3 separate regions of the Homo sapiens genome follow, and all the other regions are linked to region 1. The links come from fine-mapping of genetic effects on gene expression. A gene starts in region 1. Each other region holds a variant in brackets. All regions are shown on one strand. Distances are from middle to middle.

What was found. PIP is the estimated chance that this variant, and not a neighbour inherited with it, causes the effect.
Region 2: its variant is the best candidate, but not a certain one, in a credible set for the expression of SLC7A5 in whole blood (INTERVAL, PIP 0.50).
Region 3: its variant is the best candidate, but not a certain one, in a credible set for the expression of SLC7A5 in whole blood (TOPMed, PIP 0.90).

Annotation. Positions count from the first base shown.
Region 1 is chr16:87,866,791-87,877,036 of GRCh38, reverse strand. It overlaps SLC7A5 (solute carrier family 7 member 5), which reads left to right and starts at 7,530. Exons shown (of 10, transcript NM_003486.7): 1 at 7,530-8,152. The coding sequence starts at 7,615. RefSeq lists enhancers at 516-1,043, 5,455-6,216, 5,573-6,772, 6,217-6,976, a cis regulatory region at 5,167-5,493 and a silencer at 7,217-7,566.
Region 2 is chr16:87,891,906-87,902,151 of GRCh38, reverse strand. It overlaps CA5A (carbonic anhydrase 5A), which reads left to right. Exons shown (of 7, transcript NM_001739.2): 5 at 178-240; 6 at 10,198-10,246. Among named protein-coding and RNA genes, the nearest start is that of SLC7A5, 28 kb to the right of the region's middle. RefSeq lists an enhancer at 3,618-4,317. The variant C/A (reference allele first, on the strand shown) is at 5,500.
Region 3 is chr16:87,843,150-87,851,821 of GRCh38, reverse strand. It overlaps SLC7A5 (solute carrier family 7 member 5), which reads left to right. Exons shown (of 10, transcript NM_003486.7): 2 at 1-98. Among named protein-coding and RNA genes, the nearest start is that of MIR11401, 6.4 kb to the left of the region's middle. RefSeq lists enhancers at 636-1,541, 1,385-1,679, 1,542-2,448, 7,406-8,333. The variant G/A (reference allele first, on the strand shown) is at 5,368.

The DNA.
Region 1 (10,246 bases):
ACGCTGGGCTAGTTTTTGTATTTTTTGTAGAGACGGGGTCTCCCTATGTTGTCCAGGCTGGTCTTGAACTCCTGGGCTCAAGAAATTCTCCCACCTTGGTCTCCCAAAGGGCTGGCATTACAGGCATGAGCCACAGCGCCCAGCCTCCAAGTCATCTTTGACACGCAGAGCACATCTGAGAGCAGCAACAAGACTAACGTTGGGGCCAAAGTTAAGAAGTGGGGCGGAGCCTCCCTGGTGGCCGGTCATCAGCCCAGTGCCTGAAATGCATGCAAAGTCTATTTTTATTTTACCTAGTTGAACCTAAGCAAAAAATCTGGCCCTACAATCCCTAACCTTGCTCCTAGCTGTTACTGAGCAATCGCAGGGCTTCGGATTTTACTTGCAGGCATGGACACTGTTTACCGTTCCCCCATACGAACTTCAGGAAACGGGTGGGGGGACTACCCAAGTGTTCAAACAGAAGCTAGAAGGATTCGGTGAAGGAAAGTCATGAGTGTCTTTTCTTTAACAAGAATGGTGGATGTTTCCAGTGAAGAGGCAATGAGGCTTTCAAGGTGCCACCAGGGGCAGCTGAAATGAAGTTCTCTTTTTTTTGTTGTTAGATGGATTCTCAGTGTGTTGCCCAGGCTGGAGTGCAGTGGCACAATCTTGGCTCACTGCAACCTCTGCCTGCTGGGTTCAAGCAATTCTCCTGCCTCAGCCTCCCGAGTAGCTGGGATTACAGGTGCCTGCCACTGCGCCAGGCTAATTTTTGTATTTTTGGTAGAGACGGAGTTTCACCATGTTGGCCAGGCTGGTCTTGAACTCTTGACCTTGTGATCTGCCCACCTCAGCCTCCCAAAGTGCTGGGATTACAGGCGTGAGCCACCGCCCCCGGCCAAAATTCTCTTTTAACTGGGAGAATCCGCATGCTTATGAATCTGGCTGCCTATGTAAGTGGCGCCATCAGCGTGGCAGTCAGCATTGCCACGAGGATTAAAGGCCTGCCCTGGGTCTGAAGCTGGGCTTGGCCACTTACTGAACTGCCCTTTTTCTCCAACCATAAATGACAACTAACTATAGTTGCTGCAAAAATTAAATGGCATAGAGAGTGTGAAAGGAACATAAATCCTGGGACCCCACACTTGCTAACGAAAGGGAAAAGTGAAGCTGGTGACCGTGTCATGGGAACCAGCCTCCTGTTTCGGCTCCTAATTATTTAACAAACAGCTACAGAGATGAAAAGTTTGGCTGGGCTTGGTGGCTCACCCCTGTAATCCCAGCACTTTGGGAGGCCAAGGCGGGTGGATCACTTGAGGTTAGGAATTCCAGACCCGCCTGGCCAACATGATGAAACCCCGTCCCTACTAAAACTGCAAAACTTAGCCGGGCATGGTGGCAGGCGCCTGTAATCCCAGCTACTTGGGAGACTGAGGCAGAAGAATCAGTTGAACCCGGGAGGCAGAGGTTGCAGTGAGCTGAGATCGACCCACTACACTCCAGCCTGGTGACAGAGTGAGACTCCGTCTCAAAAAAAAAAAAAAAAAAAGATGAAAAGCGACACACCTCCCTCACATTTTGCCCATAAGGAAATTCCTTGTGGGCTCCAAGATCTTTACCCTAAGCGCTTCTGTTAAAGTTCACCCTGGCAATGTGAACCGTTAGCTTATCTTCACAGGTGCTGGGACGAGGGGCAGAACTGAGTCATCCCTCCGCCCACCTGAAGCAAATGCATATCTCATTGTTTCCGCTGCCCTATCGTCTAGGGTATCTTACGTGAAACGGCAGAGTCACTAAACCAGACAAAAACTTGAATTTTCCCCTACCCCCTTCACATGAAAATTGTGTACTGCCCAATATCCTGCCCTTCCCCCTTTCAATATTGAAGCCCTCAAAATCATCTTCGGAGAAAGGCATAGACCAGTCTCTCAGGTGCGCGTCCCTAATGTTGGCATTTAAAGCTAAAATGACGGAGACTTGCCTCGGTCGTCTTCCTTGACTGGCAAGAGTCTTTAAGGCCGAACACTGACTGAGTGGCTGCCCTACACACCTATCTGCCTGGAAACAGAACGGAATTTCTGATCGTACTCAGGGCAGCCCCACCTTGTCAAGCATGCAGATAGGAAAAGCTCACCTCTGAGCATAATAAAAGCATGGCTTTCAAAAACAACCTCCAGAAGAAGCAAGGACCCTTGCTATGTTAAAAGATGCAGGCATTTCTCCCCTGTGACTGAGAACCAGCCCGGCAGGGGACTCACAGGAGAGAGGCGGCCCCAGGAAGCCCCACTTCAATTAAGGGTTGTGAAGCCAGCAAATCTGAGACAGGCCTCCTTTAATTTAGAAAGCGTATTTTGCTAAGGTTGAGGGCGCACCCGTGACACAGCCTCGGGAGGTCCGGACCGCATGTGCCCAAGGTGGTTGGGGTGCAGCTTGGTCTTATACATTTTAAGGAGACATGAGACATCAATCAAGTACATTTAAAAAATACATTGGTTTGGTTCAGAAAGGCGGGACAACTCAAAGCAGGAGGGGGGCTTCCAGGCTAGAGGTAAATGTAAACATTTTCTTTTTTTTTTTTTTTGAGACAAGAGTTTCGCTCTTCCACCCAGGCTGGAGTGCAGTGGCACAATCTTGGTTCACTGCAACCTCTGCCTTCTGGTTTCAAGCGATTCTCTTGCCTCAGCCTCCCATTACAGGCGGTGCACCAACACGCCCAGCTGATGTTTATATATATATATGTGTGTGTATATATATGTGTGTGTGTGTATATATATGTGTATATATGTGTATATATACGTATATATGTATATATGTGTATATACATATATGTATATATATGTGTGTATATATGTGTATATATATGTGTGTATATATGTGTATATATGTGTGTATATATATGTGTGTATATATATATATATATATATATATATTTTTTTTTTGAGACGGAGTCTCGCTTTGTCACCCAGGCTGGAGTGCAGTGGTGCGATCTCCCGTCACTGCAACCTCCGCCTCCCACGTTCATGCCATTCTCCTGCCTCAGCCTCCCGAGTAGCTGGGACTACAGGCGCCCACCACCACGCCCAGCTAATTTTTTTGTATTTTTGGTAGAGACGGGGTTTCACCATGTTGGCCAGGCTGGTCTTAAACTCCTGACCTCAAGTGATCTGCCTGCTTCGGCCTCCCAAAGTGCTGGGATTACAGGCATGAGCCACCGCACTCGGCCAATGTTTATATTTTTAGTAGAGATGGGGTTTCACCATGTTGGCCAGGCTGGTCTTTAACTCATGACCTCGAGATCCCCCCGCCTCGGCCTCCCAAAGTTCCCAAATCGCTGGGATTACAAGTGTGAGCCACCGCGCCCAACCAATTTAAACATTTTCTGGTTGACAATTGTTTGAGTTTGTTGTCTAAAGACCTGGGATTGTTGCCGAGCATGGTGGCTCACGCCTGTAATCCCAGCACTTTGGGAGGCCGAGGTGGGCAGATCACCAGGAGTTCGAGACCAGCGTGGTCAACCTGGTGGAACCCAGCCTCTACTAAAAATACAAAAATTAGCCAGGTGTGGTGGCAGGTGCCTGTAATCCCAGCTACTCGGGAGGCTGAGGCAGGAGAATCACTTGATCCCGGGAGGCAGAGGTTGCAGTGAGCCAAGATCGTGCCATTGCACTCCAGCCAGGGCGACAGTGAGACTCTGTCTCAAAAAAAAAAAGAAAAACACAAAAGACCTGGGATCAGTAGAAAGCAATGTTTGGAGGCCGGGCACAGTGGCTCACACCTGTAATCCCAGCACTCTGGGAGGCCAAGGCGGGCGGATCACGAGGTCAGGAGATGGAGACCATCCTGACTAACACGGTGAAACCCCGTTTGTACTAAAAATACAAAAAAATTAGCCGGGCGTGGTGGCAGGCGCCTGTAGTCCCAGCTACTCTGGAGGCTGAGGCAGGAGAATCACTTGAACCCAGGAGGCGGAGCTTGCAGTGAGCCGAGATCGCGCCACCACACTCTAGCCTGGGCGATAAGTGAGACAAGAAAGAAAGAAAGAGAGAAAGAGAGAAAGAGAGAGAGAGAGAGAGAGAGAGAGAAAGAAAGGAAGGAAGGAAGGAAGGAAGGAAGGAAGGAAGGAAGGAAGGAAGGAAGAAAGAAAGAAAGAAAGAAAGAAAGAAAGAAAGAAAGAAAGAAAGAAAGAAAGGAAGGAAGGAATGTTTGGGTTGTGGTGAGGCTGTGGAGATGAAAGCTGTATCATGCAGATGAAGCTTTTAGCTAGGAGGCTTCAAAGAGAACAGGCTGTAAAATGTTAATCTTTAAGTCTGATAGACTTCAAGTATGTGTTGGTGTTAGTGCTGGAGAGGTCTAAAGAGGCCGTCCAACCCCCGATTCTCTTCCTGGCCCAAACCAGTCTTTCAGGTTAAATGTTAAGAGCCCTGGCTGAGGAGGAAGTCTGTTTAGATGTCTGGGGTGGCCCTTAGAATTTTATTTTTGGTTTACAGGGTTTACCAGGTAAGTCGTTTTCCTGGGAAAAAGAACGAGTTGAAAGGAAGAGCAAGGATCCGCTCCGGACCTCACTCCTATATTTTGCTGAGATGAAAACCACAATCCCTGCACTGCGAGACTCATCTCATAATTAGAAAACAAAGGATTATCCACCGGGTTCTCTCCCCTCGCCCTGTGGCCTTGCTGCTCCCCTGCAGTTGCTCCAAATGACAAAATAATGACGGGTTCGCCTTGTGAGAGAGGGTGGCCTGCTCAACTCCACGCTGGCGCTCTGAGGGGGGCAGAAGATGCCTCGTCTCATTTATGTTGCAAACAGCCTTAAAAAGGACCTGCAGGGCGCTGGGCGTGGTGGCTCACGCCTGTAATCCCAGCACTTTGGGAGGCTGAGGCGGGCGGATCACGAGATCAGGAGATTGGGACCATCCTGGCTAACCCCAATTCTACTAAAAATACAAAAAATAAAAAATTAGCCGAGCATGGTGGCGGGTGCCTGTAATCCCAGCTACTCCGGAGGCTGAGGCAGGAGAATTGCTTGAACCCGGGAGGCGGAGGTTGCAGTGAGTTGAGACTGTGCCACTGCACTCCAGCCTGGGTGACAGAGTGAGACTCCGTTTCAAAAAAAAAAAAAAGAAAAGAAAGTATTCTCCCAACCAGCTCAAGCGAGAGTGCCACAACTTTTTTTTCTTTTCTTTCTTTCTTTTTTTTAACCTCTGAAAATACACAACATGTGATAAATTACTGACTGGAGCTGAAAAGACCATTGTCCTGCCTCTGTAAAAATCAAAACGCTGCCGAATCTTTCCAACAGATGGCACTCTTTGCTAAGATTCTAGAGTCATAGCTTTCAGGCGAAGGCGTTTCAGGGCCGGCATCAGGGACGTCTGAGAGGAGTAGATTTGCTGGATAAATCTAGAATGTTGTCATATGAAAACCCAGTAAAAACCGACAGAGGTGGCGTAATAGCTGTGTGACTTGAACACGCTCATGGCTGTTGTCACCCTTCCTGCTTAAGGGCTCCAGCACTTGCCAGGAGCCTGGCTCTGGGGGCACCAACCATGACTTGCACCAACTGTGCAGGGCCCCCTCTGTGCCGGTGGGGACCCCTGCACCTCCCTTATTAATTCTCACTCACCCTGGGCTCTCAGCTCCAGGTACCACCTCAGAAAAGTCTATCTGGACCTGCCTGGTCCCTGTCGCTGTCGCTGGCTCACCCTGTCATGTCCTTGGCTTATCATGGTTGTAATTTTATGCTTTGGGGTATGACTGTTGGTTGCCTTTCTTGTTACTCAAAGAAGAATGGTGGAATGATTAAAAGTACCATATAAGTTCAGAGTCAAAAGGACAGCTCCCAGGCTACTTGCTGGCCGGACAAGCGAGGTAACCCTACCAAGCCTCAGCTTCCTTATTTGCAAAATGGCTCTAACTGGCACCTACCCTATTGCATAAGAAGCTGTCTAGGGGAGGACTCAGTGAGCACTCGGTGAGTTTGCCCAGCCATGGTGGTACTGTCTCCTTCCCTCTGCAGGCACAGCGGGAAGAATAGGGCAGATGGAGGGGTCTCTGCACCTTCCACAGCCAGCAATGTGGACGGCAGATTACAAGTTAGTATCTGTGTGACCTCCGCACTCCCCCGCCTGTGGCTGCCTGGGCTGCTGAGATTTCGCTCGGTTTTATCACCGCAGAGGAATGCCCGACATACCGGGGGGCGAGCAAGGTCCAGAATGACAAGCCCTGGCATTCCTCAGCCGCCCCCTCCCTGGGGTGGGGCCTGGACATTCCTGGCTGCAGCTAGAGGTCCCAGCACGACAGGGATTCTGACCCCCCTCCACCACGGCTATTGTTCAGAATTCTGTGGATTCCAGAGGCATCTGCCCAGCAGACTGTCTTGCTGTGAACACCCAGCTCTGCAACCGGTGTTTGCGTGTTTGCCCTGGGAGGCTGAACGCTCACCCAGAACAAAGGCCTCCCCACATGCCTGCTGTGAGCTTCCAAGGACTCGTTTGCACACACGCCAAGGAACCCCGGGGTGGGGTGATACTGAGGAGCTTCCTCCCTGACCCACACACACCCTTTGAACAGGTCTTTGGCCGCTCACCAGTCTGGTCAATCTCGGGGCAGTATTTATATTCCTTCCCATTTCCAGGCCTAGGAGCCTTGGCATCCTGCTCTCGCCTCTAACTGAAATTACCTCTCAACCCTTTTTAGCTAAGATGCCTCTCGCATTCCCTAGGAATAACAAGCTTTAAAGCCCCTTCACACTGAAGCCTGCCTTTGAATTCCCCAGGTAGATTTGGGGGTGGGGGTCTTATGGCTCCCAGCGAACCCCCGGTTCTGTTGATTAAATTGAGCTCAGGCAGATTGCTGGCTTCCCAAAGCCTGTGTTATTACTGCTTCTCAAAGCTACGGGCACCGGATCGCCGTCTTTGGCAAGATTCTTTTGGGATACAATGGGAATTACTGGGTGGCCTCGGTTCGGTTCTTCCCTCGTCCCAGTTCGCGGCTCACCAGCCCCACTGATGCAGCCCCCAGGCTGGAAGGAGGCTGCAGGAGCTTCCCCTCAGGTCATCCTCTCATCCCTCCCCCGTGCCCCAGGAGCTGGTTGTGGGGGCGGTTCCATCCCCTCGGCCCATCCGGGACAGGAGCCTAGGTTCCCTTCGGGGGGTACCCCAAACTCCATCCTTGGCCTCAGGCCAGCCCTGGTGCACTGCCCGCTCCCAGGCTTGACGAGAGGCTGCGGGCCAGTGGGTGAAGGGGCGCGCCCTGACTGCCAGGCCCCGCCCAGGCGCATCCGGGAGGACGGGCTGGGATGACGCGGGCGCCGGGAGGGGGGAGGTCGCGAGGCCGGGGTCTCCATGGCGCAGGAGGACTGGGGCCTTCGAGGACCACGCGGGCCTGGGAATAGCCCGCCAGGCTGGGCCGGACGACGCACGTGCTCCGAGCTGGGCCGAGGGGGCGGGGCTGAGGGACGGGGCCGGGCCACGGGGCGGGGAGGAGCCGCGGACGGTGGGCGGGGCCGGCGGGCCGGGGCCTAAAAGGCGGCGCGGGCGGGGTTCCTGACGCAGCTGCGGGCGGCGGGCGGCGCGCACACTGCTCGCTGGGCCGCGGCTCCCGGGTGTCCCAGGCCCGGCCGGTGCGCAGAGCATGGCGGGTGCGGGCCCGAAGCGGCGCGCGCTAGCGGCGCCGGCGGCCGAGGAGAAGGAAGAGGCGCGGGAGAAGATGCTGGCCGCCAAGAGCGCGGACGGCTCGGCGCCGGCAGGCGAGGGCGAGGGCGTGACCCTGCAGCGGAACATCACGCTGCTCAACGGCGTGGCCATCATCGTGGGGACCATTATCGGCTCGGGCATCTTCGTGACGCCCACGGGCGTGCTCAAGGAGGCAGGCTCGCCGGGGCTGGCGCTGGTGGTGTGGGCCGCGTGCGGCGTCTTCTCCATCGTGGGCGCGCTCTGCTACGCGGAGCTCGGCACCACCATCTCCAAATCGGGCGGCGACTACGCCTACATGCTGGAGGTCTACGGCTCGCTGCCCGCCTTCCTCAAGCTCTGGATCGAGCTGCTCATCATCCGGCCTTCATCGCAGTACATCGTGGCCCTGGTCTTCGCCACCTACCTGCTCAAGCCGCTCTTCCCCACCTGCCCGGTGCCCGAGGAGGCAGCCAAGCTCGTGGCCTGCCTCTGCGTGCGTGAGTACGGGGCGCGGGCCGGGGGTTGGGAGGTCGTAGTCTCTGGGTCCCTGCATCCTTGCATCACTACGCCCCTGGCTCCCACATCTCTACATCTTTACGTTCCTGGACCATCCCGGCAGTTCTAGGCTAAGGTCATTGGTCCCAGAAACCACGTGCGTTTCTTTCATTCATTCTTTTACACTTCTCCCCACAGGCTGGGAATATCTTCAGTGACGGGACAGCAGGGTCCCTGCCCTGCCCTTCGGTGGGCATTCCATTCCCCCACTTAAGCGGTTTAGGCAAGTGCCACCCTCCCGTTGGCCCCGCTGAGCAATACTCCCAGCCTCTTGCGTGGCACCCACGTGGAGTAACTGAGCAATCGGTTTACTGTTAGAGCTCCGATTGCTGACTGGTTGGTGAGAAGGAAATTGCAGTTAAAAAAAAAATCATTCATTTCTGCTCTCCACACCAGCTCGTCAGGAATCAGTGACACGGGCTGACTCATAAGAAAACAGTAGTAATAACATCGTGTGCGGGTAGTGACTGGTGCTGATTTAGGCTAAGGGATCCCCCCTGAGGGTTCCCAGTAGTGAGAGAGCGGAGCTTGGCTGCAGATTCAGTCTGTGTTGCAGTGAATGGACGTGCGGGTCCCAGGTTTCTCTGGGAAACAGCCATGGGGCTCCTGTTTTGGTGGGCATGGTGCTGGTGTGTTCTTCACCAGGCCAGAGATAACTGCTTTTCAAAATAGTTTTCTTTTTCTTTTTCTTTCTTTTTTTTTTTTTTTTTTGACACTGAGTCCCGCTCAGTCGCCCAGGCTGGAGTACAGTGGCACGATCTCGGCTCACCGCAAGCCCGCCTCCCAGGTTCATGCCATTCTCCTGGCTCAGCCTCCCGAGTAGCTGGGACTACAGGTGCCCGCCACTACGCCCGGGTAATTTTTTTTGTATTTTTAGTAGAGACGGCGTTTCACCGTGTTAGCCAGGATGGTCTCGATCTCCTGACCTTGTGATCCGCCCGCCTCGGCCTCCCAAAGTGCTGGGATTACAGGCGTGAGCCACCGTGCCCGGCCTCAAAATAGTTTTCTTGTGGGATTTCAGGGGGAAAATCACTTGTAGCAGATGCCACATGATTTGGTTGGGTGGCGTGGGAAGGTGGGTCTTGGCAATTCTCAGATTCATCCCATGGCATGGATCGGCCTGCATCTCAATAGTGTGTGTACACATTCAAGGTGGGAAGGGCTAATTTATAGTTGGGGTCTTGAGCCATGAAATCAGGGGAGTGGCTTCTGACTGGCAGGACCTGTTGGCGCTGTTTTCTGCCACACCGTACTTTGGGGGGGAGGGGGAGGGGGAGGCATTTCTTCATAAATGTGAGAATGCCCCGAGGGCAAGACTCAGCAGGGCTCTGTGTGGTTTCTCTGAGGCTCTGAGTCGAGCAGCCGCACCACCATGCAGGTCAAAGCCGGGAAAAATCGTAGCAGGACAGCAGTGGGGAGAGCCTGTGCCTTCCAGCTGGGCGTTGGAGATGTGAATGTAGGGGATGACTCTGATTTCTTTTTTTGTCATTAGAATTTCACTGGTTCAGTCTCCCTCCCGCCTAGGTACATGTCGGCCCGGTATGTAACGACATGGATAGTAGCTTACGCAGCCTGCACTCTTATCTTTAAAAAATGAACCCCTGGTTGGCTGGGTGTGATGGCCCACGCCTATAATCCCAGCACTTTGGGAGGCCGAGACGGGCGGATCTACCGAGGTCAGGAGTTCGAGACCAGCCTGACCAACATGGTGAAACCCCATCTCTACTAAAAATACAAAAATTAGCCGGGCAGAGTGGCTCACGCCTGTAATCCCAGCTGCTTATGAGTCTGAGGCATGCTCCGGGATGTGGAGGTTGCAGTGAGTTGAGATCCCGCCACTGCACTCCAGTCTGGGTGACAGAGCAAGCCTGTCTCAAAAAAAAAAAAGCAGCCCCTGGGTGCTGAGTCTCTGACTTCCTGCTGGTGCCAGGAGTGAGTCGTGGGAAATGCTTCATTGGCCACCAGGAAGGAGACGTAGGATGGGGCGCTGCCTAGTTTTCTCTTTCTAATAAAAATCACATCAGTCATACATGAAT
Region 2 (10,246 bases), 25 kb before region 1:
GAACTCCTGACCTTAGATGATCCGCCCACCTCGGCCTCCCACAGTGCTAGGATCACAGGCATGAGCCACCGCACCTGGCCTAGGATTGCTTTTAAAACGTGGTGTATTTACAGTGGAGTGAGCTTCCCCCCCCATCCACTGCCTTTGCAGCTAACCCCTCCTTTGTCTGCCATGCAGCTCGGGGCCCATCATCAGACGCTGCAGAGGCTGGTGGACATCTTGCCGGAAATAAAACATAAGGTAAGCTGCATATTTGAAATCAGCAGGCCGGGCGCGGAGGCTCACGCCTGTAATCCCAGCACTTTGGGAGGCTGAGGCAGGTGGATCACGTGAGGTTGGGAGTTCGAGACCAGCCTGACCAACATGGAGAAACCCCGTCTCCACTAAAAATACAAAACTAGCTGGGTGCGGTGGCACATGCCTGCAATCCCAGCTACTCGGGAGGCTGAGGCAGGAGAATCGTTTGAACCCAGAGGTGGAGGTTGCAGTGAGCTGAGATCGTGTCATTGCACTCCAGCCTGGGTGACAAGAGTGAAATCCCATCTCAAAAAAAAAAAAAGAAAAGAAAAGAAAGAAATCAGTATAATCTGACAAGCAAAATTGTTTAGTGCAGCGATTCATTTGCAAGGAAAAAGAAATGGCGTAGTGGAAAGAGCCCCGCCAAGGGGCTGTGGTTCCAGTTCTGGAAATGGGATTCCGCAGGGTTGATGCTGGTGTGTCCACAGCTAGGTCTCTCTGACTTCGAATGCATCACCACTGCTCTGGGACCCTGTTTCCTCCTCCATAAAATAAGGGTGTTGAGCTCAACAGAAGTTCCCAAAATTCAGCCATGCAGGCGAGATCCTGAAGACGTTTGACATATCTGCCTGCCAATGGGACAACTTTCTACTGAATATTTTTCTTTTCTTTTCTTTTTTATTTTTTCGAGGAGTCTCCCTCTGTCACTCAGGCTGGAATGCAGTGGCGCGATCTTGGCTCACTGCAACCTCCGCCTCCCGGGTTCAAGCAATTCTCTTGCCTCAGCCTCCCATGCGGCTGGGACAATAGGTGTGCGCCACCATACCCAGCTAATTTTTGTATTTTTAGTAGAGACGGGGTTTCACCATGTTGGCCAGGCTGGCTGGTCTCAAACTGCTGACTTCAGGTGATCCGCCCGCCTTGGCGTCCCAAGGTGCTGGGATTACAGGCGTGAATCACCGCGCCCAGCCTAGTTAATATTTTTCTTTAAATTGATTAGCTCGAAAAATTTTTAGCCTTGTCCTGGGTGATGGTATTCACTAATGATAAAGTTTGTTTTAAAACAGATTGAAACAAAAACCTCAAATCCCTAACTAATAACATTTAAGAATGTTGACTCATGTACCACCCAGCACTCTCCTTGAACGTCCCTGTCCGACCCCAAGCCCAAGGGCGGAGAGAAACCTGCCCAAACCGCAGCTCTCCGCCCAGCGATCCATAGGCTTCCCTGTATCCAGCGCAGCTCGAAAAGATGGTGGGGACAACAGTGTCGCCTTTCTCCAAGATCAGCTGAGAAAAGGCTTTGAGGGAGAAGGAGAAATTCCAAAGAAATGTAGTTTATTTATTCAGCAGCATACAAAAGAATTCCAGGGCAGAAGGAGTCAACGCAAGCCTCACATGTGCGGACGGATGAGGCTTCAACCTGTGTTAACAATGGTGGAGGCTGGTCCAGATGGAGCTGGGACCAGCCCTTCCTCGCGGTTCAAGGAGACGTTTGATCTGTACGTGGCCTTCGCCTTGATGCTGGCTTCGGGGTGGCCTCCTGGGACTGGGACCAGATCACCCCCTGCCGCCCCATCTGCCTGCTCAGGAACTTCACAAGGCCACGGTTCTGAGAGCTCTGACGCCCCATCCTCTTCCTCCACGCGGCTCCACAGCCAGAGGAAACCTGGGCAGGGGTTGTTTTCCCAGCCAGCCTCCACCTCCCACACCAGGTGGTCCCACCTCTTGGTGGGAAAGAAAAGAGCTGATTGTGAAGGACCCTTTACCCAAGGGCTGTTTTCCTCCCGGGGAAGGTTCTGGAGCATTTCTTCTCCATGGGGTAAGTCAGAATTTTCTAGGCAAACCACAGGGGAGGAATGATGCCCGGGACAGGGGAGGAAGTGCCACCGCGGACTGAGCTCTGGTCCTGATGCTGATCTCTGGGCTCATCCCCTCAGCTGAAAATAAAGAGTTAGACTCTTTTTTTTTTTTTTTTTTTTTTTTTTTTTTTTTGAGATAAAATCTCGCTCTGTTGCCCAGGCTGGAGTGCAATGGTGCGACCTCGGCTCACTGCAACCTCCGCCTTCCAGGTTCAAGTGATTCTCCTGCCTCAACCTCATGAGTAGCTGGAAGTACCGGCGCCCACCACCATGCCTGGCTAATTTTTGTATTTTTAGTAGAGACGGGATTTCACCATGTTGGCCAGGCTGGTGTCAAACTCCTGACCTCAAGTGATCTGCCCACCTTGGCCTCCCAAATTGCTGGGATTACCGGCGTGAACCACCGCACCTGGCCGAGTTAGACCTTTGAGAAATTAAAAGACCTTAAGAGGCTGGGTGCGGTGGCTCACGCCTGTAATCCTAGCACTTTGGGAGGCCAAGGCGGGCTTATCACTTGAGGTCAGGTGTTCAAAACCAGCCTGGCCAACATGATAAAACCTCATCTCTACTAAAAATACAAAAATTAGCCAGGCGTGGTGGCGGGTGCCTGTAATCCCAGCTACTCAGGAGGCTGAGGCAGGAGAATTGCTTGAATCTGGGCGGTGGAGGTTGCAGTGAGCTCAGATTGTGCCACTACACTCCAGGCCGAGTGACACAGCGAGACTCATCTCAAAAAAAAAAAAAAAAAAAAAAAAAAGACCTTAGGAGGTAAAAGGCCCAGCCTTGGGAGCAAGAGTCTGTGCTTCATGGGCCAGGGAATGGGAAGAGACTTGAACAACTCTCTCGCCTAGAGGCTCCTAGCCTAGGACTTCTGGGAGCTTCTCCCATAGCACAGTGTATCAGAGAGCCCCACAGTTGGACTCCTGGGTTCAGAGCCCAGATCCACCACTCCTGAGCTGCGCACCTCTGAGCCTCAGCTTCCTCGCCTGTGAAATGGAGATATTAAACATCCACAGTAGCCCAGGTATGGTGGCTCACACATGTAACCCCAGCACTTAGGGAGACTGAGGTGAATAGATCACCTGAGGTCAGGAGTTCAAGACCAGCCTGGCCAACATGGCAAAACCCCGTCTCTACTAAAAATACAAAAATTAGCTGGGTATCGTGGCACACTCCTGTAATCCCAGCTACTCAGGAGGCTGAGGCAGGAGAATCGCTTGAACCCAGGAGACGGAGGTTGCAGTGAGCCGAGATCGTGCCACTGCACTCCAGTCTGGGTGACAGCTCGAGAATCCGTCTCCAAAAAAAAAAAAAAAAAAAAAATCCACACTAGAGCAGCATTCTCACCATGTAATGGAATAAGGAGCATGTCTGGTTCTTGGTGAAATGTGCAGTTGAGTTTAAGGCCCAGCTGTGGCCAACACTCACACACTCAAGTCTGCTGTGGAAGGCACAGGCTGCTGCTGCCCGTCACGAAACGAAAATCCACCAGCCCAATCACTAAGGTTAAAATCGCTTTTTGTTGCTGCGGGTGCTTTCTGTCAGGTGATTCCCAGAGAGAGCTATTACCTTCTGGGAGCCCATGAAATTTTAGAATGATGGCCTTGTGATGGAAAATGCTAGAAGTGTGGTTGAATCTAATTCCTGATTGGTGGGCAGTGCAGGGCAGGACAGGGCCATGGTGGCCTCAGGCTCAAGGGCAGATGGCCTTGGCTTCAAATCCCAGCTCTGCCACTCCCCCGCGGACTCAGCAGTTCTCACCCAGGGACGGGCTCACCTGCAGCTTCTGGGCTGCTTTCCTGGTTTCCTCCAGTTAAGGAACAAGTTGTCCTGAATTAGGGCAGGAAAGACCAGAGTCACGTAGTCCCCATCATCTCTCCTGGTTCCAGGCTGGTCCGGGCCCTGCTGTGGGACTGACTCGGCAGAGACCCTCCAGGAATGCCTGCCACGGTCACTCCCTGGGGACCCAGCTGGCTTCTATGCAGTGCTCAGGGCTCCAAGGGTGCATTTCCAGAAAGAGCCAGATGGACACGATGTCCTTTTCTGCCCTGGCTTCCAGAGTCACAAAGCACTGCTCCTGCGGCATCCTGTTTACCACTCCCGTCAGGAGCACCTGCCCAGGCTCAGGGCAAGGGGACATCACCCTACACCTCGGCGGAAGGGGTTCAAAGAAGCGACAGCCCTCCACATAAATTATCACACTGAATCTTCCAATCACTCCACGGGGCAGGGCCTGTGATTCATCTGTCTTGCACACACAGGAAAACCAAAGCTCAGAGAGGCAGAGAAGGCCTTGCCCGAGCACACAGCTGGCAGGTGAAGAGCCCGTTTTTAAACCCAGGAAGTGGGTCCACGCAGCCTGAAGTCCCAGTCATCCTGGCGCCCACCTCCCGCATGCAGTCAGAACCCAGGCTGAGCTCCAGCCCCTGCTGCACATTTCTGAGCTTTTCAGCAGCTTAGAGGGAAACACAGGCAGTGTCTGTAACCAAAACCACATCAGGCGCTGCCTGGAAGCCTGGACCCCCACCCCCACCCCCAGCACCATCCCATCTGCACAGGCCCCTACCAGTGCCGACCTGTCACTATGCACTCAGCTCCCAGCACGCAGGCACAGCCCCAGTGTGGTCCTGGTGACCCCGGGCAGACAATTCCAGAATGGAGACCTCAAGGCTTCGCCTTTGACCCTCTCACCATAGCCAGAAGTTTTGGCAAAAACTGCCCACAGAGGGTCCCCACCCTCCATGCCTGGACAAGCCGCAAGCTCCTCAGGCTGCTGGGGTCCCCCCTCCTCCCTGCCTTCGCAACAGTCAGAGCTACCGGGGAATTGGCTGCCTTGTGGAGGTGGAAACAGCCCACCAGGTCCAGGGGATCCAGGGAACGGCTCTGTGCCCTGTGGGGGCTCTTCTAGCTTTGGCAGCAGCAGCGGCAGCACCTACTGAGCCCCACGCCCACGTGGCAGGCACTGATGGAAGCCCATTACCGCCACCACACTGCCTGTCGTACACCTGGGGAAACTGAGACTCTAAGAGGACAAAGCAAGGGCGGAGTTAGGCTGGGTGGGGCTTGACGCTCATAAAATGTGGGGTCCTGTTTAAGAGAAAGAAGACAAAACCAGGAACAGAGCGTGGCTCACGCCTATAATCCCAGCACTGTGGGAGGCTGAGGCGGGCGGATCACCTGAGGTCAGGAGTTTGAGACGAGCCTGACCAACATAGAGAAACCCCATCTCTATTAAAAACAGAAAAGTAGCCAGGCGTGATGGCGCATGCGTGTAATCCCAGCTACTAGGGAGGCTAAGGCAGGAGAATCGCTTGAACCTGGGCGGTGGAGGTTGTGGTGAGCCGAGATCGTGCCATTGCACTCCAGCCTGAGCAACAAGAGTGAAACTCTGTCTCAAAAA[C/A]AATAAATAAATAAAAGAAAAGTGGAACAAGTCACCAACCCACTTCCACCAGCAAAGGCTTGTGGTGCTTTCCACAGGTAGCTGGGCCATCCGTGCTCAGATAATGGATGTGATGGTCTTCAGCCTCATTGGTGTGCTCACCGGTGTCCCATTCTAGCTGCCTGAGGATCACCACATGCATAAAGGAAGGGCCCTGATTTGCTTTGGGGGCCCTGAGGGGGAGCAGTTTTCTGTAACCACATGGCTGCTCCAGCCCTCATGCATCTTAGAGACAGGACAGGAACTCCTGGGGACGATGAGGCAACACACAGGCATCCTCTTCTCAGCCCAAGGCAGAAAGCTTAATTGGCAAGAAACCTACCCGCAGTGGCATGGCTGGAGCCTGCCACTCCCCTGACTGATTCCTGCAGCCTTGGGGAGGGAAGGAAGAGCCCGCACCTCGGAACGGGCCAGGCCTCAGTGGCCCTGACTGGCAACGTGGCTTTGGGCAAGTTTTTTATATCTGTCTGTCTATCTTCATCAGTAAACTAGAAATACTTCTCAAAGGGTTGTTCTGAAGATTTGAAGTAGTTGCTCAGAAAGTGACTGGCACATCTGTGCCCTGGGGATGTGTGGCAGGCAGGAGGAGACGGACGTCTCACTGCACACCCGCCTGTTACCCACGTGCACCAGACTGATGTCTCACTGCACACCCGCCTGTTACCCACATGCACAAGCAGTCTGCTCCTTCACAGCCCAGCTAGAGCGTGCAATGGGATGTCAACCCAGCTAGACCATGCAGTGAGATATTACTTGGCAATCAGAAAGGACACAGCTCTAACTCATGCTGCGGTGTGGGTGAGCCTCAAAAGCGCCGTGCTGAGTGAGAGACACAAGACACAAATGTTCCACATGTTACATGACTCAGTTCCTATGAAACCCACAGAGACAGAAGCAGCAGGGCGGGGGTGGGGACCATAGCTAAAAAGTACCAAGCTTCCCCCTTGAGGTGGAAGTTCTAAAATTGACTTGGGATGGCTGCACAACTGTGAATATACCCAAAACCATAGAACTGTACCCTTCAATTTTTATTTACTTTTTTTGTTTTTTGTTTTTTGTTTTCTTTTTGAGATGGAGTTTCACTCTTGTTGCCCAGGCTGGAGTGCAATGGCATGAGCTCAGCTCACTGCAACCTCTGCCTCCCGGGTTTAAGTGATTCTCCTGCCTCAGCCTCCCGAGTAGCTGGGATTACAGGCATGCGCCACCACGCCTGGCTAATTTTGTATTTTTAGTAGAGACATGGTTTCGCCATGTTGGTCAGGCTGGTCTCGAACTCCTGACCTCAGGTGATCCATCCGCCTCGGCCTCCCAAAGTGCTGGGATTACAGGCGTGAGCCACCGTGCCCAGCCTATTTACTTATTTTAAGAAAGGATCTCACTCCGTCACCGAGGCTAGAGTGCAGTGGTATGATCACAGCTCACTGCAGCCTCAACCTCCGGGGCTCAAGCCATCCTCCCACCTCAGCCTCCCAACTACCTGGGACCACAGGCGTGCACCACTGCACCTGGCTAGTTTTTGTATTTTTTGTAGAGTCAGGGTCTCGTTATGTTGCTTAGGCTGGTCTCAAACTCCTGGCCTCAAGCAGTCCTCCCACATCGGCCTCCCAAAGTGCTGGGATTACAGACATGATCCATTGCGCCCAACCAGGCTGTACACTTTAGATGGGAGAGTTGCATGGTATGTGAATTCTATCACAATAATGCTGTGGGTTTTGCTGCTGCTGCTGTTGTTTGAGACAGAGTCTCTCTCTCTGTTGCCCAGGCTGGAGTGCAATGGTGCCATCTCGGCTCACTGCAACCTCTGCATCCTGTGCCAAAGCAGTTCCTGTGTCTCAGTCTCCCGAGCAGCTGCGATGACAGGCACCTGCCACCATGCCTGGCTAATTTTTGTATTTTTAGTAGAGATGGGGTTTCGCCATGTTGGTCAGGCTGGTCTTGAACTCCTGACTTCAGGTGATCTGCCTGCCTTGGCCTCCCAAAATGCTGCGATTACAGGCATGAGCCACTGTGCCCAGCCTATAATGCTGTTTTTTTTTTTTTAATTAACTGGATAATTATAAACGTGAACATGCGTGCATAGAACTGATGCATGTGTCTGCCAGTGTGGACACTCCCGGGCTTCCTTCTGGTAGCTCAGCCACCTCTCTTGACCCTGACCCTCACTGCTTGATGTTAGGAGACAAGCCCAAGGCATCTGGGTTGCCAGCTTCCACCTTGGAAGGCCAGGGCCCAGCAAAGTCAAGGTGATGTGATGTGGCTGAGCAGGGAGGCCATCTTCCTTGCAGACAGGGACTCTGTCACTTTGGACTGGACTCTTGTCCCACAGTGCTGGCCAGGGGCAGGTGCAGAGCTATGCTTGGTTGGCATGGGACGCTGATGAGGGCTGTGTTGCGGCCAGGCCCAACCACCGTGAGCTGAGATCATGCCACGGCACTCCAGCCTGGAAGACAGAGTGAGACTCTGCCTCAAAAAAAATAAAAAAAATAAAAAGTTATAAATAGAACTACCCTATGATTCAGCAATCACACACTTCTGGGTATATATCCAAAAGAGCTGGCTGGGCACAGTGGCTTATGCCTGTAATCCCAATATTTTGAGAAGCCAAGGCAGGAGGATCGCTTGAGCCCAGGAGTTGGAGAACAGCTTGGGCAAGATGGCAAGACCCCCTGGCTACAAACAATTAATTTTAAACCCTGGTGTGGTGTCCTAGCTACTTGGGAAACTGAGGCGGGGGGATCGCTTGAGCCCAGGAATTAGAGCCTGCAGTGAGCTATGATGGCATCATTGCACTCCTGCCTGGGTGACAAAGTAAGACCCTGACTCTTTTTGTTTTTTGGCTGTGAGTGTATTCAATGCAAAATAATCCTCTCTGATTTTACTGAGGTAGCTGGCCATGTCCACGACCAAATCTGCCTTTAAACTGGAATTCGGTTGCTGACCCAGCCCGAGCCTCGGCTATCTTGTCGGCACCAGGGGCACAGCACTCCGTCTGTAGGTATGTCTGTCAGCTTCCCCTCTTGTGAGTCTTGCAGGTCGCCCACCCTCCAGACCTTTAGGCCGAGGCCTGCCAGTCCCTGGACGGCTGCAGCATAGGGTGGCAGGCACAGTTTCCAGGGACAGATGAAGGTAATCACGGAGATACTGGATGCCCTCATTGGTAAGGTAGCAGTAGAAATGTCTCCAGGCAAGCCGGGCGTGGTGGCTCACGCCTGTAATCCCAACACTTTGGGAGGCCGAGGTGGGCAGATCACGAGGTCAGGAGATCGAGACCATCCTGACTAATATGGTGAAACCCCGTCTCTACTAAAAATATAAAAAATTAGCTGGTCGCGATGGCGTGAAGATGTAGTCCCAGCTACTAGGGAGGCTGAGGCAGGAGGATCGCTGGAACCCAGGAAGCAGAGGCTGCAGTGAGCTGAGATCGCACCACTGCACTCCAGCCTGGAGACTCTGTCTGAAAAAAAAAAGAAAGAAAGAAAGAAAGAAAGGAAGAAAGAAAGAAATGTCTCTAGGCAAACTGTTCCTTCAGGCAGCCTCGGGGCTTGAGAGACTGCATGGCCTTCGTGACATGAAGGTTGGGCACATTCTTGTCTGCCATCTCCGGGTGCTTAGGCATGTGGACATCCTTCTTGGCCACCATGACTCCCTCCTTAAAAAGGAGCCCATAGGCCGGGCACAGTGGCTCACCCCAGCACTTTGGGAGGCCAAGGCGGGTGGATCATCCGAGGTCAGGAGTTCAAGACCAGCCTGGCTAACATGGTGAGACCCTGTCTCTACTAAAAATACAAAAATTAGCTGGGCGTGGTGGCAGGCGCTGGAGGCTGAGGCAGGAGAATCGCTTGAACCTGGGAGGCAGAGGTTGCGGTGAGCCAAGATCACACCATTGCACTCCAGCCTGGGCAACAAGAGCAAAACTCCATCTCGAAAAAAAAAAAAAAAAGGTTAAGATGGTAAATTTTATGTTATGTATATTTTATCACAATAAAAAGTAATATTTTTTGCAGCCAAGGTATGCTAAAAGAAATGGCTTTATTTTTATTTTTATTATTAATTAATTTATTATTATTATTATTATTATTATTATTATTATTATTATTATTATTTGAGACAGAGTCTCACTCTGTTGCCCAGGCTGGAGTGCAGTGGCATGATCTCGGCTCACTGCAACCTCTGCCTCCTGGGCTCAAGCGATTCTCCTGCCTCAGCCTCCTGAGTAGCTGGGACTACAGGCGCCCACCACCACATCTGGATAATTTTTGTATTTTTAGTAGAGACAGGGTTTCACCACGTTGACCAGGCTGGTCTCGAACTCCTGACCTCAAGTGATGCACCCGCCTCGGCCTCCCAAAGTGCTGAGATTACAGGGGTGAGCTACTGCGCCCCAAGAAATGACTTCAAAAGGAAAAATGTGAGCACCAACGTAAGCTGGTGTAATGTAACGTAATTCCCACCAATGTAAGTTGGCAGGAATCCTTGCTCTGTATAGAAGGGTCACATTTTCTCATCACTGCTTGCAAGTGTGACAGCAGTGGCCTCATGGCCTTATCTGGGGGAAAGCACTTCCTTCCAAGCACCATGAAGGCCTCACGTGCTGAGACAAGATGGAAGCTCCTAGTCTCCCCTGAGGACTGACACGTCCTGTGCTTCTCGGTCTCTCAGGACGCGCGGGCGGCCATGCGCCCCTTCGACCCCTCCACTCTGCTGCCCA
Region 3 (8,672 bases), 24 kb after region 1:
CGTGAAGGCCGCCACCCGGGTCCAGGATGCCTTTGCCGCCGCCAAGCTCCTGGCCCTGGCCCTGATCATCCTGCTGGGCTTCGTCCAGATCGGGAAGGGTGAGTACGTCCCCCAGGCCCCACCGGCGGCCCCTCGAGGCTTTGCCTGTGTGTCCTTCACAGGGCATGAGGTCCCGTCCCCGGGTGCCTCCCAGTCCGCAGCTCTGCAGTGCTGTACAACGTGGAGATTTCCCTCTGGGAAAATCACCCAGCAAGTGAAATCCGACCCAGAGGGGGACACAGGAGTGCTCCCGTGGGACAGCGTGGCCACCACTGGGAGGGGCTCTGGCAGTTTTTCTTGTTTTTTACGCTGCGATGTCTGTGAATCTTGAGAGCCCAGCTGATGCGTTGTAACCTCACCTGGGGGCGATGTGGAACATTCCAGGCCTGGCAGGGGCTATGCCTGCCATGCAGACCTCACCCGAGCCATCTCACCCTGGGTCTGTCAGAGTCCCACGTGCTGTCGCCCCTCACCCACCCCCGACGGGGCCATGCTCCTGGTCATGCTGTGATTCATTCATCATTCCATGGGCAGGTGTGGGATTGTCTCTGTGTTTCTGTCTGCTTTTTAAAGAAGATGAGGTAAGCATGGAAAACAAAACAAACGTGGTAACCCCATCACTCAGACGTGTCCACTGTTAGCATTCGGGAACAGGTGAGAGCAGTCTGGCGCACAGGTTTTAAGGCTGGCTGGCCCAGACTTTGGTCTTGTGCTGTGTGATCTTGGGGAAATCACTGATTCTGAGCCTTTTTCCCAGCTGCTTTTTCTCTTGGGGCTGGTAGAAGGAATAAAGAGAGTGAGTGTGAAACAGCCCCCGCCCCTTTGCACCTGTGTTCTCTGTTGACGTGGACTGACACAGTTGGTATTTTGCTGGGTGTCTCTGGACCCTTTAACACACACTCCATAGATCTGTGTTCTGTGTCTGCCTGCAGAGCCTCCACCCTTTCCACACTGCCATTCCGCGGTGAGGTCGGGCTGGGGTTTCATAAGCAGTTCCCATTTGTGTGGTCACAGACCCTGGGACACACTGTCCTTGGCACTGGATCCCACCCGTGGTTGGGTACAGTTGAAGTGGGGGGCCCTGTTGCTTGAGTCCAGCAGGGATGCCTCTGTCTGCAGTTCCTTCTGAGTTTGTCTCCATCCATGTTGGAGCCAGCCTAGGAGCAGAGCAGTTAGGAGCTGGCCTCCTTCTCTTCTCTCCCAGAGCCTCAGGTAGAGATGATCCCAGTCCTGGAGCTGTGGAGCTTTCGCTGAGTGCAGGCACCCGGCGGATGCACGCTCTGGTGACTCGCAGTCACCGATGGCTGCAGAGAGGCTGCCTGGTCCCACATGGCTGTAGGGGAGGCAGGTAGGACCCCAGGGCTGCAGAGGACAGGGCAAGGACCTTGCTCCTAGAGGCAGGAAGGTCCTCACCCAGCAAGCTGTGAGCTGCCCCGCCCCCATGCACGGCCAGGCCAAAACATGCAGACACAAGGACGCTGCCTCCTCCTGTGTGGGGCCCTGCCTCAGGGCTGGGAGGCTCTCCTGTGTGCACCGTGCCACTGGTGGGCTGTGAACTGAACAGTGCCCCGCAGCACCCAGCACCCAGCACGCAGCTTTAGCTGAGCCTCCGCCTTGCTCCTGGCGCCCCCTGCTGGCTGTACGTGGCACTTCGCCTTAGGACAAAGTCTGGCTGCAGCTGGGGAGGGGTCTCCACACCAAGCAGGTAACCTGGGCCTGCAGGGGGATGCAGTGCCGGGCTATACTGACCTCACCACAGCGAGGCGAGCTCCAGGGGCTGGGGCCAGACTGTCTTTATCAAATGTATCAATCTGTACAAAGTCTGCAGCAGGTGTTAGTTACCTGCCTCATCGTCGAGGGGAAGTCCCACTTGATTCCCAGGTGGCTCTGGAAGGTTGCCCAGGTCAATCCTTCAGGAGCTCGAGCCCATCCCCCATGCATGTGTCTGACCAGGGATTCTCAGAGTCGCCCGGGGTACCAGAGCCACCCAAGAGCTGGCAGGACAGGGCTGGCAGGAAGTCCCAATTCTGAACCTTCCTGGGACCTCAGGTTCCGGCACCTTACTCAAGGCAAGACGAGCTCATTCCATGGCTCCCGGGCACTCAGAAGTTGCCCAGGGAGGTGGTTGGGCCTGAGTGACATTTTACGGGCAGGAGACAAATCCATCCTGTGCCTCCCAGAAGTGGGCACGGAAGGGGTGCTTTGCTCGTGAAGGCCTTTGCTTGGCTGCGCTCATCAGATAGCCAGGAAAGATTTAGGAGGGGAACGTGATTTTTGTAAAAACAAATTTCGGTAGGGAGAGCAAAGAGCTTTTGTTCGACTTGAATACATAATAGGTTTATAATTCCGTTAGCTGTTGAAAGCGTCCTCCCACCGTGCTCCCCCCAGCAATTCCCTTCTGAGCTTTGGGATACAGTGCAGTGTCTGCAGAATTCCTGTCTCCTGTTTGGCTTCAACAGATTTATTTTGTTACCAGATGAATGCCTTGCTTTTAGAAGATACATTGTGTTGACCCCTTTCTCCCAAAGCAGTTGTCCAACTTTATACCCCCCAGTGGACGCAAAGCCCTTGGGCAGCTGCCCCCTCCCCTCGCTGGCACCTGGCAGCAGCGCCCCCAGATACTTCAAGGCAGAGACTCCGGCCTCAATTTTGCAACGACTGGCAAGTGGCCCTTTCCGGGTCTGGAGAATGCAGCGAAAATCTGGCAGAGCAGGCCTGGCCCACGCACCTGTTCCTGCCTGTCCCGCACCCTGGGTGCCCTGCTCCATTGGGGCTGAAAAGGCTCCTCCTTGCTGCCCTTGGCCCCCAGGTGGGCCCTGTGCTATGGAAAGGCACTGGCCCTAGGGTCCTGTAGGCCTTGGCTGACCTGTTTCCTCCTCGTCAGGGAAGTTTGTAATCACCCCTTCCCAGTTGGCCATCCGCAGAACCATCTTCTGTCCCGTGTGCCGCATCTATGCCGGGTCCCAATGAGAACATGGCCCCGCATCCAGAGCTCATGGGGGGACCTGAGAGCCATAGGCACGTGAATGGGAGAGTCGCAGTGGGGAATAAGCGGGGCCCTGGTGCAGACCAGAAAAGCCCTTCTGAGGGGTTGGGCCTTTCCTGAGATGCGGGCTGGGAGGGGCAGCTGGCTGAGTGACAGGGGCGACTCTGCAGGGGCCTGAGTGGTCGGGAGCCCTTGCCTCCTCCGCGTCTTGGGGGAGTCATGGCTGCCCCTAGGCTGGGGCATGGGGACACGCAGGCTTAGGTGTCACATGAGGTTCTACAGTTAGTCCCAGCCTTTTCGAAAGGGAGACAGTACTCATGAGGGTTCAGATCTGACCCACCGTCCCATGAGTCCACTCGCAGGCTGTTGCCTAAGGAGAGGGTGGCTGGGCCTTCGCCTGCAGGGCGGAGGGTGGGAGCGAGGGCACAGGCTCTGCCGTCCCAGCCCAGCAGCAGCAGCACGTCCCTCCTGGAGGACACAATGGGGCGCTTTGTGCTTTGCTTGGGCTGCAGCCGTCAGCGGCAGAACAAACTAATCTCTCCTTGAACAGTTACAGATTGGATAGTTGGGCAGATTTAAAAAAAAGGTTGCATAAAAACTTTCTTTTCCTTCTCCTCCCACATTGTACTGTTGGAGGTCAGTATTCCCCTGGAGCAAATTTGCCCTTTCACTCTGTCCACAAAAAGGAAAGAAAGCCGCAGCCTGCCAGGGCGGCGTGCCTCTTGCTGTCCTTCACCCCAGGAGGGGAAAATGCTTCCCCTGGGCAGGGCTCAGACCCCGGCTGAATGGCTTTGCTGAGCTGCTGGGCCCTGGGTCCCGGTGGCCGAGACCCCTGGATGTGACCTACACCTATGAGTAGGGCACTTCTGGACGGTCCCGTGTCCCAGGCGGTAAATACGTGTGTGCCACTGGGCTGTGGGGCAGGGGCCTGCATTTGTGTGTCACGTGACAGTTTTGAAATGATGGTTTTCCTTTGGTTCTTCAGCTAGTAGGGCCCCTTAGACTCAGAGAAGTGGGGTGCCCTGCCCCAGGTCCCACAGCCGTGAGCAGTGGGCAGGTCCCTCCCCACCCCCACTGTGACCCTGGGTGCAGTGTGCAGGGTCATGCGCTGCTGGGGGGAGGCCCACACCTCTGTTCCCAAGGTGCGTTCGGGTGGACAGCACTGGGCCCATCTGCTCTTGGGAGGTTCACGTGGGGTGTCATGTGTTACGGGAAAAGCTGACGGGACAGTTCCTGAGTAACACGTCCATCCTGAGAGGGTGGAGGTCTGGAGGACATTCCTTTTCAGACTGGTCTCTGAGCTTCACTGAGCTTCCTTGAAGGCAGCCCCCTGAGCCCCTCCCGATGTCCCTCCTGAGGAGCTTCCTGGAGGAAGAGGTGCCGCCTCCCTCATCTGGCCCTCATCTGGCTGGGGGTGTGCGGCCCTGTCTTGGTCTCCTCTTCCTGTGGGTGGGGGCGTCCAGCCCCCAGACGATGTTTCTGACAAAGGCCCCCTCAGTGGTCACAGCACATGCCCAGCTGCTGGGCTGTTCTGGTGAGAAAAACGTTTCACCCACACCTTGGCTGTCTGTGGCTCTGGGGTGTGGAGGGGTCGCCTCGTGGACTGAGAAGCCCCCCTGGGCTGTGGCTTAGAGCTGTTCCTTCTTCTGGGCCTGGCTTCACCTGAGTGTGTGCGTGGACCCATAGCTGGGCTTCTAGGCGCTCCCAGCAGAGCTCAGCCCAGCCTGCTCTCCGAACCCCAGATCAGGACTGTGGGCTTCTAGGGTGCCCTCCCGGAGAGAGGGCAAGGGCAGGTGCTAGATGTGCAGCTGCCTTGGGATTCTAGTTTTGCCGCCCCCCGGCCAGGGTGTCTGAGCCTCGGTGTCTTCCCCTGGGAAATGGGCTGTCCTCCCTTGCAGGGAGGAGGCCAGGCTCACCGCGTCCCCGGCACGGGAGCCACTGCCATGCAGGGTCCAACAGCCCCTTTTCCTCACCTCACGCCCTGACTGCCGCTTTCTCCGGGGGTGACAGCAAGAGCGGAGCAGGCCTGGGTGGGTGGGTCTCAGCTTCAGAGGGTCTGGTGCCAGGGCCCTGCTACCTGGATGCCGGCGGGAGAGTCGGTGAGAGGCCCCGCCAGGCCAGGGACCCTGATGCCCTGGGCGGGGTGCTCGGCCTCCTGGCTCCTAGACACCCCCTCGCTGTGTTTCCTTGTGGGAGAGTGAGCTGTCTGGGGCCTCCTCTTGTGTGGACAAGGATCCTGTCAGATCAGGCCCCACCCTGAGGACCCCACTTACCCTTAATCTGTAGAGGCCCCATGTCCACGTACAGCCACACCGGGGTTAGGGCTTCCACGTCTGAGTTTT[G/A]GGGGACAGGATGGAGCTTCGGGCCCCGCTCTCCTGGCAGGAAATAGGGCAAGCCCCAGGGCCTCAAAGTGAATCCCAGCTGGGTACAGGCTGTGTTAACCAAGGGAGGAGTCGGCCACAGCTCGGCCTCGAGCTGCCAAAGCTCACTTTCCAGAGAAGCTTCCAGGCTGGCCTGCCTGTGGGGGACTCCAGGGCATCTCTCTGTGAGGCATCTCAGACAGTCTCAGGGTCATGCAGGGACAGACAGGACATTGCGCTCAGGAGCTCCCAGATTGGTGCCAGGCTCGAGTGTGGCTCCACTCCGGACAACCTGGGCCTGGAGCCAGGGCTGCGGCGTTGGCTGCCCCAAGGGTGGGTACTTCGCGACTCAGGGCACCTCTTTTGGGCCTCGAAGACCTCGCAGTTGATAAAGGATGCTTGACCCGCCGCTTGCTCTGGGAGCTCAGTGTGTCCTGGGCCTGCCATTCTTCTGTGCCGTCGGCCTCGGGAGGATGACAGGCTGGGGAAGCTGGGGCTCTGCCGGTGCCGTGTGCTGGGACAGAATCAAAGGACGGGAGCGGGGCTTGTTTTCCCGCGGCCTTCACCTCCCGGTGCCCTTCGTCAGACGCATGGACAGAGGCCAGGGCAGCCACAGCCCTGTGCTGGGGACAGTTCTCAGGGTCTTTCCCCGCCTGTGGAGTTGGAAAAAGCTTTTACTTCTGGTGTGAGGTTGGCAGCTCTAAGCAAAGGGCCCACTCCTTCATGAGTTTCCAAGACCGACAGACACTGCTGGTGGTCCAAAAGTGCCATCTGGTTGCCGCCAGAACCCCCAAACCCAAATTCCTGCCCCATCACGGTTCCCAGGCATTAGATGGCCAGAGCGAAACAGGCATCTGAAAAGCGGCGCCGTGGCCTAGGGTGGGCGTGGACTCCGTGGGGTGGGCGTGGACTCTGCCTGGAGTGGGCATGGACTCTGGGGTGGGCGTGGACTCTGTGGGGTGGGCGTGGACTCTGCCTGGAGTGGGCATGGACTCTGGGGTGGGCGTGGACTCTGTGGGGTGGGCATGGACTCTGGCCTGGGCTCTGGACTGAACCCATGTGGCGGTCACTGCACGACTTCCCTGAGCCCACAGGGCAGCTAGCTCCAGGGTGCTGACCACATGGGACTCACAGCCCCCTCTTAGATGAGGTGCCATTGGCTGTGCACTCGGCTGGTGACTGAGAAGTGGGGTGTGAGCTGCAGCTGTCCTGCCCCTGACCATGCCTGATGCACTGAGAAGCCGGGAGGTCTCCCCTGGGTGGCACGGTTGGCCCCTCATGTGTGGTGACAGATGCCTACAGACTGGCTTTAGCAACAGACATGCAGACGGTCCTGGTCCTGGCAGCCAGAGGTCCAGACCCAAGGTGCCACCTTCCCCTTCCAGCTGCCCGTGGCTCCAGGCATCCTGGGCTGGCTCTGGCTCTGTCTCCCCTGGATCTGTCTCTGTGTCGCTGAGGACACTTGTCGTCGGCCTTAGTGCCTACTCTAATCCGGGATGATCTCATCTCAAGGTCCTTCGCTAATTGCACCTGCGGAGACCGCATTTGCAGCTAGGACACATCCCGCAGCTCCACTGGACGTGAATTTTGGGGACACTGTTCAGCACACTCCACCTAGAGCCCCAAGGGGCCAGAGTGGTTGGAAGGCGGAAGGCCCCAGCACAGTGGAAAGTCCGCGCTTGAGGAGTGACTCTCTTGTCCCTGAGGTGTTTCCAGGGCTGGGGCAGGGGCCCGTCAGCCCTGAGGTTCCGGGATGCCCTCCATCTCCACATTCCCATGTTCCCCACGCTGGGCAGGCTCTTCTCTCCAGGGACACTGCGTTCATGGGGAGACATCGTCCTCTGAGTCAGGAGCCAGAGGCTTGGAGGGTTGGCCGCATCACAGAGGAGGGGGAAGATCCCGTTCCCACGTGCGTTTGGCCACTGGGGGCGTCCCTGGGCCCCGTCAGCAGGATGGCTTTAGCCACCGGCGGAGTCTCCCCTCCAGCCTCGGGGTGGATGGTTCCCATGGCCGCATCTGCCTGACTCAGGGATCAAGGCCACTTTTCCCTGAAATCATCTCCCCAGGGCCTTTGGAGCGCTCGTTCCCACCGCAATTACCCCGCTCTCGGGGGAATCCTGCTGACAGGGCTGCTGTGCCGGGGTCGCCGCGGCGTTTGCAGTTTGCCTTCCCCCCACCCGGGGTTTGGCTGTGCGTTTGCTTTCATGGCAGCTCCACCAGCCCCTGAGGAAGATGCCTCTTAGGGACAAGGAAGGGGCTGGAGGGCCCCACTCAGGCTCTGCGCTGAGTCTGTTCTCGCGTCTCTGTGGGCTCTGGCAGATGTCACCGTCTGTCCACGGTGATTCTCTTCCTCACTTCCCTGTCACGCTGTCCCCTCCTTGTGGGTGGAGGCTGACTGGATAGCAGACTGTCAGGTGTGGAGGCTGGGTGGCTGCTGGATGAGTGGGCCGCTCAGCCATTCCTTCCAGTCCTGCCCAGTGCCTGGGGCTTCATGTCGAAGCCAGGACCACGCCCGAGTCTAGGGTCCATGGGAGAGAAAGCTGAGAGGAGCTGGTCCTGTCCTCCCGGCAGGGGTAGAGGCTCGTGGCTGATGCCTTGTCATGGTCTTCTTGCACAGGGCCTCAGCCTGGCACCTCTGCCACCGTGGGCTCTCTGTTGTGTGGGGGTGTCCCGTGCATTGCAGGACATCCAGCAGCATCCCCGGCCTCCTGCTCCGTGCCAGTAGCGCCGCACCCCGCCGTCGTGACAGCCCAGGTCTCCCGGTGTGCAGAATGCCCGCTGGTCATGCTGAGAGGTACAGGGGTGCTGCCCCCAGGGTTTGAACGCTGTCTAACTCCCACCTCTGGTGTGTCTCTCCCCTGTGTGTAGCGTGGAGTCACTGGATGAGTGTGGTGACCTCCCTGTGTCCAGCTGCCCTGGGCTGCAAGCAGGTCCCTCCTGCAGCCCTCCAGGCCACCCTTAAGCAGAGCTGGACCAGCCTGGCCAACATGGTGAAACCCCATCTCTACTAAAAATACAAAAATTAGCCAAGCGTGGTGGAACTCTGTCTCAAAAAAAAAAAAAAAAAAAAAAAAAAAAAAAAAAAAAAAGTTACTCAGGCCTTAGGGCTGCCAATATCTGGCTCCTGACTGAAGACCTCATACCATGTCAAGCCTCGGTATATTGTCCTTAGCAAAAGCAGCCACCCTCTGTGTAGGATCAGCCGCCTTTCTGTCATGAGGCTGGAGGTCAGCTATGAGGATTGATGTGTCTGGCGGGGACCTTGGACTGAGGCCTCCTGTCCATCA